Homo sapiens: one gene and its partner. The protein of the gene in region 1 purifies or fractionates together with the protein of each later gene. This does not show direct contact. Each region holds a gene or a part of one and is shown on either strand. Other genes may lie near its edges.

The links.
Region 2: the proteins of TRPC7 (region 1) and MX1 purify together in Homo sapiens (pull-down; one study listed by IntAct). This does not show direct contact.

Annotation. Positions count from the first base shown.
Region 1 is NC_000005.10:136,222,360-136,226,179, reverse strand, and holds part of TRPC7 (short transient receptor potential channel 7), read left to right. Parts: coding exon 1-146; intron 147-825; coding exon 826-906; intron 907-3,820. UniProt on the Homo sapiens protein: Forms a receptor-activated non-selective calcium permeant cation channel. Probably is operated by a phosphatidylinositol second messenger system activated by receptor tyrosine kinases or G-protein coupled receptors. Activated by diacylglycerol (DAG).
Region 2 is NC_000021.9:41,436,232-41,440,051, forward strand, and holds part of MX1 (interferon-induced GTP-binding protein Mx1), read left to right. Parts: intron 1-783; coding exon 784-921; intron 922-3,462; coding exon 3,463-3,617; intron 3,618-3,820.

The DNA of each region.
Region 1 (3,820 bases):
CTGCTCCTTTTAATCTAGTGCCAAGTCCTAAATCATTTTATTATCTCATAATGAGAATCAAGATGTGCCTCATAAAACTCTGCAAATCTAAGGCCAAAAGCTGTGAAAATGACCTTGAAATGGGCATGCTGAATTCCAAATTCAAGGTAGGTAGCATGTGGTTTATGAGGCTGGAGAAGGCAGCAGGAGGGGGCAGGCGAGTCTAGAGTGTGTTTGAGTCATATGGCTGCCCTCCCCCACCCCATGCAAGGGGAGCCAGGAGCTGGGAGGGCCGGTACTCTGTAGAGTCTACCTGGACACATCTGAAAGCTCCAATGCCAGCAGAGGCTACTGTGATACCCTCCTTTCTCCTTGCAACCCCTTGGAGAGGTGCCCTGCTGGGGACATAGTAAGCTGCCTGGCTAAGCCATGACCCCAGTGAAGGGAACCCCTTAGTGGACTTGGAAATGGAACAGCTTTTCTCAGAAAGTATCTGGAAAATGATCTCTGAGAAAAAGGTTTCCTTCCCACTGTCTGGCTTTCCTGGGGATTCTCAGTGTTTATTAGTATGTTAAAACCCCTGGAGAAAAGACATCCATGTAACCTTAATTCAGTGCTTTCCAACCAAGTTGACTAAATATTCTGTAACCCTTATTAACATCCTACAGAGCTAAAGGTCCTAGGAACAATGTTCTAGGAAGCCAAGCAGCACCAGGTAAATCAGCTTTCAAAAGCTGCTTCACTGAGACAGCCCCGTATATGGATACTGTTCAAGTCCTACGAGATATGTAGGGATGCATGTATGTTTTTCTGTGTGATGTGTGTGGGTTTGTTTGTTTTATCCAGAAGACTCGCTACCAGGCTGGCATGAGGAATTCTGAAAATCTGACAGCAAATAACACTTTGAGCAAGCCCACCAGATACCAGGTAACCACCCCTTTCCCAAGCATCCAAGCATGGGCAGAAGTAGACTCCACTAAGACACAGATTTAGTCCCATGACTGTGTCATCCCCCGAGAACACAGCTTCATTCCTTCCTTTATTGTACAAATATTTATTGAGTACTTACTATATGTCAGGCACTGTGCTACTTCCTGGGGATACAGATACAGATGTGGTTCCTCCCTCAGTGGCACCTCCAGTCTAGTGATGATGGACAATAAACAAGTCAACACACAGATAAGTGTATGCCCTCAAACTGGTAATAGTGACAAAAAGCAAACAGGAGGACTCAAAAACAGAGAAAAATAGGGAGCTTCAGCCTAGATATAGTTTTCAGAGAGGACATCTTCAAGGAGAGAACAGTCAGCCGAGACCACTCGGATGCAGGAGGCAGCCATATATGGCCTTCCAGGCAGAGGAAGAGAAGGGTGGCAGGTCCAGGGCAGCTGGGCCCTGTGGAAGCAGAGGGTGGAGGGAGTGAGGTCAGAGGGCCAGACCACTGTCAGGATGGGGGAGAGGGTAACTTTGCCCAGGAGGGGAGATGATGAAATTGTATTCGCGCTTTAAGAAAACCACCTAACTGCTATAATGAGAAGAGACAGGTGGGGACAAGAGTAAAAGCAGGGATACCAGTGAGGAGGATGTGACAGTCATTCAGGTACAAGGCATGGTTGCTTGGATTGGGGTACGAGCAGGGTGATAGAGAAAAGCAGACAGATGCTATACACTTTCTGGATATATAGCTGCTGGGCACATATGGGGAGGGCGAGGCACACCCAGCATGGCTCACAGGTTTCTGTCTTAAGCAGTCAAGTAGATATAGGTGTCTTCAGACTTGGACTGCCAGCCTGCCAAGTCTGTTGTCAGAAAAATTAGAAAAAGAACTTTTATGCTTCCAATCCTTGCATTGCTTTTGGAAATGAATGCCAGATCTCTGTATCCGTTTGGATCAGCCCATGCGCCAGTGATAAACGATAGCTACAGATGATCAATTATAAAAGGGCAGGCCACTCCTTTCCTGTCTTCCACTTCTCGATGATCAGCAGTTTCACCTATGCTGATCATTTCTTATCAGATGTAAATTTTAAGCTGTCCTGAGCATTCCTTTGGGTGGAGGTGATGTGCCCCTGGTGCCACCTTCCCACAGGGAGAATTACAGACTTAGATCTTTTAGATACAGGTCTCTAACTGAATCTCTCCAACCATATTTCAGAAGCCAGCTGTGCAGTTAGGAGAATTTAATTGCACAATTAAGAAATGGCTCATCCCTCAAAGAGCTTATAGTTCTATCAGATGACAGGCGAAAAATTAGCAATGGGCAAATCTTGTGTTTAATCGCGCACAAAATTGGCACTGACTGGTTTGATCTGCTTTGAGCTATTTTACAGACCAAAGCCTTTGGTCAGTGAAAGTATTTTTATTTCTCAGCTTTTCAGAGAGAAGTATAGATTATCTGTGTCACAGAAAAGATAGATACCCAATGGGTTAGGGCCAAATCTCTCCTAGGTTTTGAGCAGAATTAGCTCCTGAGATAAAGGAAGATCAATTCTGTGTGAATGTCCCATTCCAGAATGAATCCTTTCTGAAAGAGACCATTTTCTTTTCTTTTTTTACTTTTTTTTTTTACTTTATTTATTTATTGATTTTAGACAGATTTCACTCTTGTTGCCCAGGCTGGTGTGCAATCGTGCGATCTCGGCTCGCTGCAACCTCCGCCTCCCAGGTTCAAGTGATTCTCTTGTCTCAGCCTCCCGAGTAGCTGGGATTACAGGCATGCGCCACCATGCCTGGCTAATTTTGTATTTTTAGTAGAGATGGGGTTTCACCATGTTGGTCAGGCTGGTCTCAAACTCCCGACCTCAGGTGATCCACCTGCCTCGGCCTCCCAAAGTGCTGGGATTACAGGCATGAGCCACCACGCCTAGCAGGAGACCATTTTCAAAAGCAGTCTCAAAGCAGTCCCATCTCTGTCTTCCGTCCTCGCTGGTTGAGTCCATACTGCCTTGAATCTCCCCAGGAACTTCCTGCTGTGATTACAGAGATTGGTCATCTACAGCTTCAGGCAACTGATGACCTTGGAAAGCTTTGCTCATTTTGTAATTTGTGACTCCACAGAAGAAGCCTGAGGTGACTTATTCAAATAGTTGTCACAGAAAAGAAACAAAAAGCCAGCCAGTAGGCATCAGAGGAAAGGGGCTGAGAGAAAGCAGTCTTTGCACATTGGCTCTTGGCTCCACCCTGCTAGGCTGTGTGGCATCGTCCTGAGTCATCATCTGCTCACAATTGGAGTAAACCCTGAGATGTCACTAAAAGATACCTGGATGCAGGCTGGACACTAGCTCACGTGTACTCTCCCATATTCCTTGGAGATGGGCACTGTCTTCAACCCCATGTAACAGATGAGGGAATTGAGGCTCAGTGGCCAAGGCCACACAAGTGACTGAATTGAGATCTCTCTGACTCAGAGGGCCCCCCCTCTCTCACCACGTCATGCTGCCTGGACACCTGCCTATTATTTATCTTCGTAGTTTTGCACCAGCACCCTCCTCAGAACCTTTCTTGCCTGTGTTTGACAGTCACCAGGAAGAGACCTATTTGAGCCTTCCAAGCACACAGTGAGGAGGCAAGGAGCAGAAGGCACTGGGGCACTTTTGCTGTCAACAGCAGCAAGGACAATTTGAGGGGGGATCTGAGTATGGTTCCTCTCTTTCCTTGGGCCTACCAGTGGCCTTCCAAGTAGCATTGCTTTCCTCCCACAGCAGCTTCCAAATGTGCAGAGAACATGAGCAGCCCAATTCACCCCCTCCTTCTTACAATCCAGGCCCTAGGCAGAGCTGCTGTCACTGAGCACATATTCCATCAGCTTCTCACATGTTGTGGCTCTGAGAAATCACTTAGT
Region 2 (3,820 bases), on another chromosome or scaffold:
ACACACAAGCATCTCTGCTGTCTCTTCCCCTTCTTCATAAGGGCACCAGTCATATTGGATTGGGGCCTACCCTAATGACCTCATTTAACCTTAATTGCCTCTTTAAAGGCCTTATCTTCAAATACAGTCCCATTAGGGGTTAGGGCTTCAACATAGGAATTTGGAGGGAACACCATTTCATAACGCTATCTCATTGCACATTTTTTTCACATAAGTCATATGTAATCTACAGTTTGAGGAGAATCTGAATAAACACATTTGGGTCCCCCAGTTCAGAACTATATCAGTGAGGTCTCAAAGAGTTCAGGCCTGGGACGGGTCTTGCAATACAGATCAGGTGTGGTAGGAAGAATATGGAAGGAGTTTACAGTAGGAGGACTGTTGTAAGGTGGCCTGGTAGCAGCAGGATGCTTTCCTAATGGGGGTAGAGTGTGTATGCTGGGGGGATAATGGAAGATGTTCGGATGAGTTTCGGGGGATTCCCAATGTGGTCTGCCACCTGAGCTGATGGCAGAACACTGGGATGAGGCAGGAAGCCAAAAGTGGTGGCTTTCAAGCGTTAGTAAGCAAAAACTCACCTGGGTTACATACTCAGAATGCATGTTCTTGAGGTCACCCAGACACAGTGCGATGTCCCCGCATATCAGAGGGTAAGACCAGAAAGTTTCCAGTTTTAAATGTCTCCCCATATGATTGTATAAAAGTTTGAGAACCATGGGCCTAAGGCGCTATGTAGGTCTTTTAAGAGCAAAGTGGAGCACTGATGTGGGCGTGGCCTCCTAGGGATCGTGACCAGATGCCCGCTGGTGCTGAAACTGAAGAAACTTGTGAACGAAGATAAGTGGAGAGGCAAGGTCAGTTACCAGGACTACGAGATTGAGATTTCGGATGCTTCAGAGGTAGAAAAGGAAATTAATAAAGGTGAGTACCCCCTGTTTGGATGCCTGGTCAAGCCTTCTGACATGCATGGGGTCTGTTTGTAACTGTTCATACTCCCACCTCCCTGGGCCTGTGCTGTCAGGACACCTTTCTCCTGCACATCAGGCCACGGTTCCTTCTACTTCTTTTACCTCATTATGACCAGCACGCTTGGATATCAGCATCTGATAGCAATCATTTATTTCTGGCCAGGCACAGTGGCTTGTGCCTGTAATCCCAGCTCTTTGGGAGGCTGACACGGGGGGATTGCTTGAGCCTAGGAGTTCAAGACCAGCCAGGGCAACATAGTGAGACCCCGTCTCTTAAAAAAAAAAAATTAAAATAGCTGGGCAGGGTGGCATGCACCTGTGGTCCCAGCTATTCAGGAGGCTGAGGTGGGAGAGTTGCTTGAGCCTGGGAAGTCAAGGCTGCAGTGAGCCGTGATCTTGCTACGGCACTCTAGCCTGACAACAGAGTGAGACCCTGTCTCAAAAACACATGTATTGCTTATTATGTAAGTATCTAGAATAATGTGAATTTTAAAATGTCCCCACATATGGATGATCTGTCCCTTATTCAAGGGCTTCCCTACTTAGATCTGGCAGGAAGAGGAGCCAGATATGGGGGTGAGGGAGCTCCTCCCCCTGTTCCTTTGTACAAGGAACTCCACATTGTGGACAGGATCGTCACTGAACCCCACTCAGAACCAGCACCCTTTTCTAAGAAAGAGGAGTGACTGTGTTTGCATAATCCCAGCTTAGGCTAATTCATGGCAGGCCTCCATAAATGCAAACCACAAGGATCAATTTGAAGTGTCTGCAAGGGGAAATGACACCAGCAGTGTAGACAGGGTAGAGTAGCTGACAAAGAACAGCCTCTGTGAGATGCATGGATAACATCTTCCTATCGACCTTCATGTTTTTCTGGCATGTCACATGTTTAAGTTTCATTCACACTGGGAAGGTACTGAAGAGACATGAACTAATGCCCAGCAGTAGGAAGGGACGGGTTTAGCATTTGTAAAGATGGAGCATTAATCACATTTGTTGACTGTTTAAAGAAAGATAAATAATGTTATTGACAAACCGTGATTTTGAATTAGTTGGGATTAGGTTGGCTGCTTGCAGCAGAAAACTCAAAATAACTGTGTGCCTTAGCCCTTGCTGTATAACAAACCCATCTTAAAACTAATGGCTTGACCACTTTTATTTCTCATGATTTGATGGACCAGCTGGGCAGTTCTTCTCTGGGCTAGCTGGGCTGGGGCTGATGGTCCAGGATGGCCCTTGGCTGGAGTGACCGGGCCTTCTGTCTGTGTGGTCTCTCACCCTCCAGAAGGCTAAGCTGGACTTATCAATGTGGGTGGAGGGGTTCCCAGCAGCAAGAGAGGGCAAGACCCGACATCTAACACCTTTCGGTCTCTCCTGACGTGGCACTGTGTAACATCCCCTTAGCCAGAGAAAGTCACGTGGCCAAGCCCAATTTCAAGGGACCGATTTTCTCTCTCTCCATGGAAGTGACGAAGGCACCCTGTAAAGTAGCGTGCATACAGGGATGGAAGGGAATGTGGATGCCATTGTGCCAGCAAGTTGCTGAGACAGCGGTCTAAACAATGTAGAGGCTTTCTGTCCCTCTCATATAAGTCTGAAGGCGGGCAGACCAGAGCTGATTGGGGATTCCAATGTCAGGAACCAAGATTTATTCTTCTCCCATTTCTTCATTGGGTGTGGCCTCTGTTTCCAAGGCCCCCCCGTGACTTAGTCAGCAAGTCCGCTTTGAAGCCAGCTGGACCATGGCAAGGGGCATATCTCTGCCTTTGTAAGCACACTTTCTGGAAGTTGCACATAACATTTTCACATGGCCCATTGGCCAGAACCCGATCTCATGACCACATGGCAGGTACATGGATATTGGGGGAACAATTAGTGGACCATAACCACTGATATTTCCTAAGTTCTAAATTGATATCAAACATCCCAAAAAGGCATTCTAGATTTAGAAAAGAGTAAAGTGGTGTTAGCCAACAATTTGATGAAACAAATTCATATCCTAAAATTCATTAAGGAGGAAGGAGCAAAATAAAATCTCTTAATGGGATGTTAACAGCCAGTGCTTATCTTAGCTAAAATAAGCACATTTCCCCATATAATTTTCCAGTTTATATTTTAGGCATTTCCATATATTTTTATTTGTTTTTATTTTGCTTGGTTGCTAATTTCCTACTGACATCAATGAGAAGGATTTAGGAATGCTACCAGGAAGAACTTCTTGCCTCCGCCCAGCTTTGGACTGGTCTAAGTGGGTGTCACTCATGGTGACGTTCTCACAAGGTCTCTCTACACACAGTGCTGGCCAACAGCAGGGAAAATACTGAGTTATCCTTTGAGATCTCTTTTATCCCAATCACAGAAAATTGAATCTGCTCCAAATATGCTTTTATCCATGACTCGCAGAGAGGAGAAGATGCTTTCAGAGTATTCACCATCATGAGATCCGTTTATCCTAAGCTCTGTTTGGGTTTGATTTTCCCTGTCTCTTTTCTAGCCCAGAATGCCATCGCCGGGGAAGGAATGGGAATCAGTCATGAGCTAATCACCCTGGAGATCAGCTCCCGAGATGTCCCGGATCTGACTCTAATAGACCTTCCTGGCATAACCAGAGTGGCTGTGGGCAATCAGCCTGCTGACATTGGGTATAAGGTCAGACTTCAGACCCATTCTGACCTTGGCCGTGGCGTGGGGATGGGGGAGTGGAGGGGTGGGAGGAGAAAGAGGGTACTGTATTAGAGTAACCGTGAGTCCAGAGCTGAGTTTTGGAGTTAGTATTTGGAGGTGTGAGTGGGGAATTTAGAGAGCCCGTTGGTCACAGTCTGTTCTGTCAAGTTGAATGGAAGCTTCTTTGG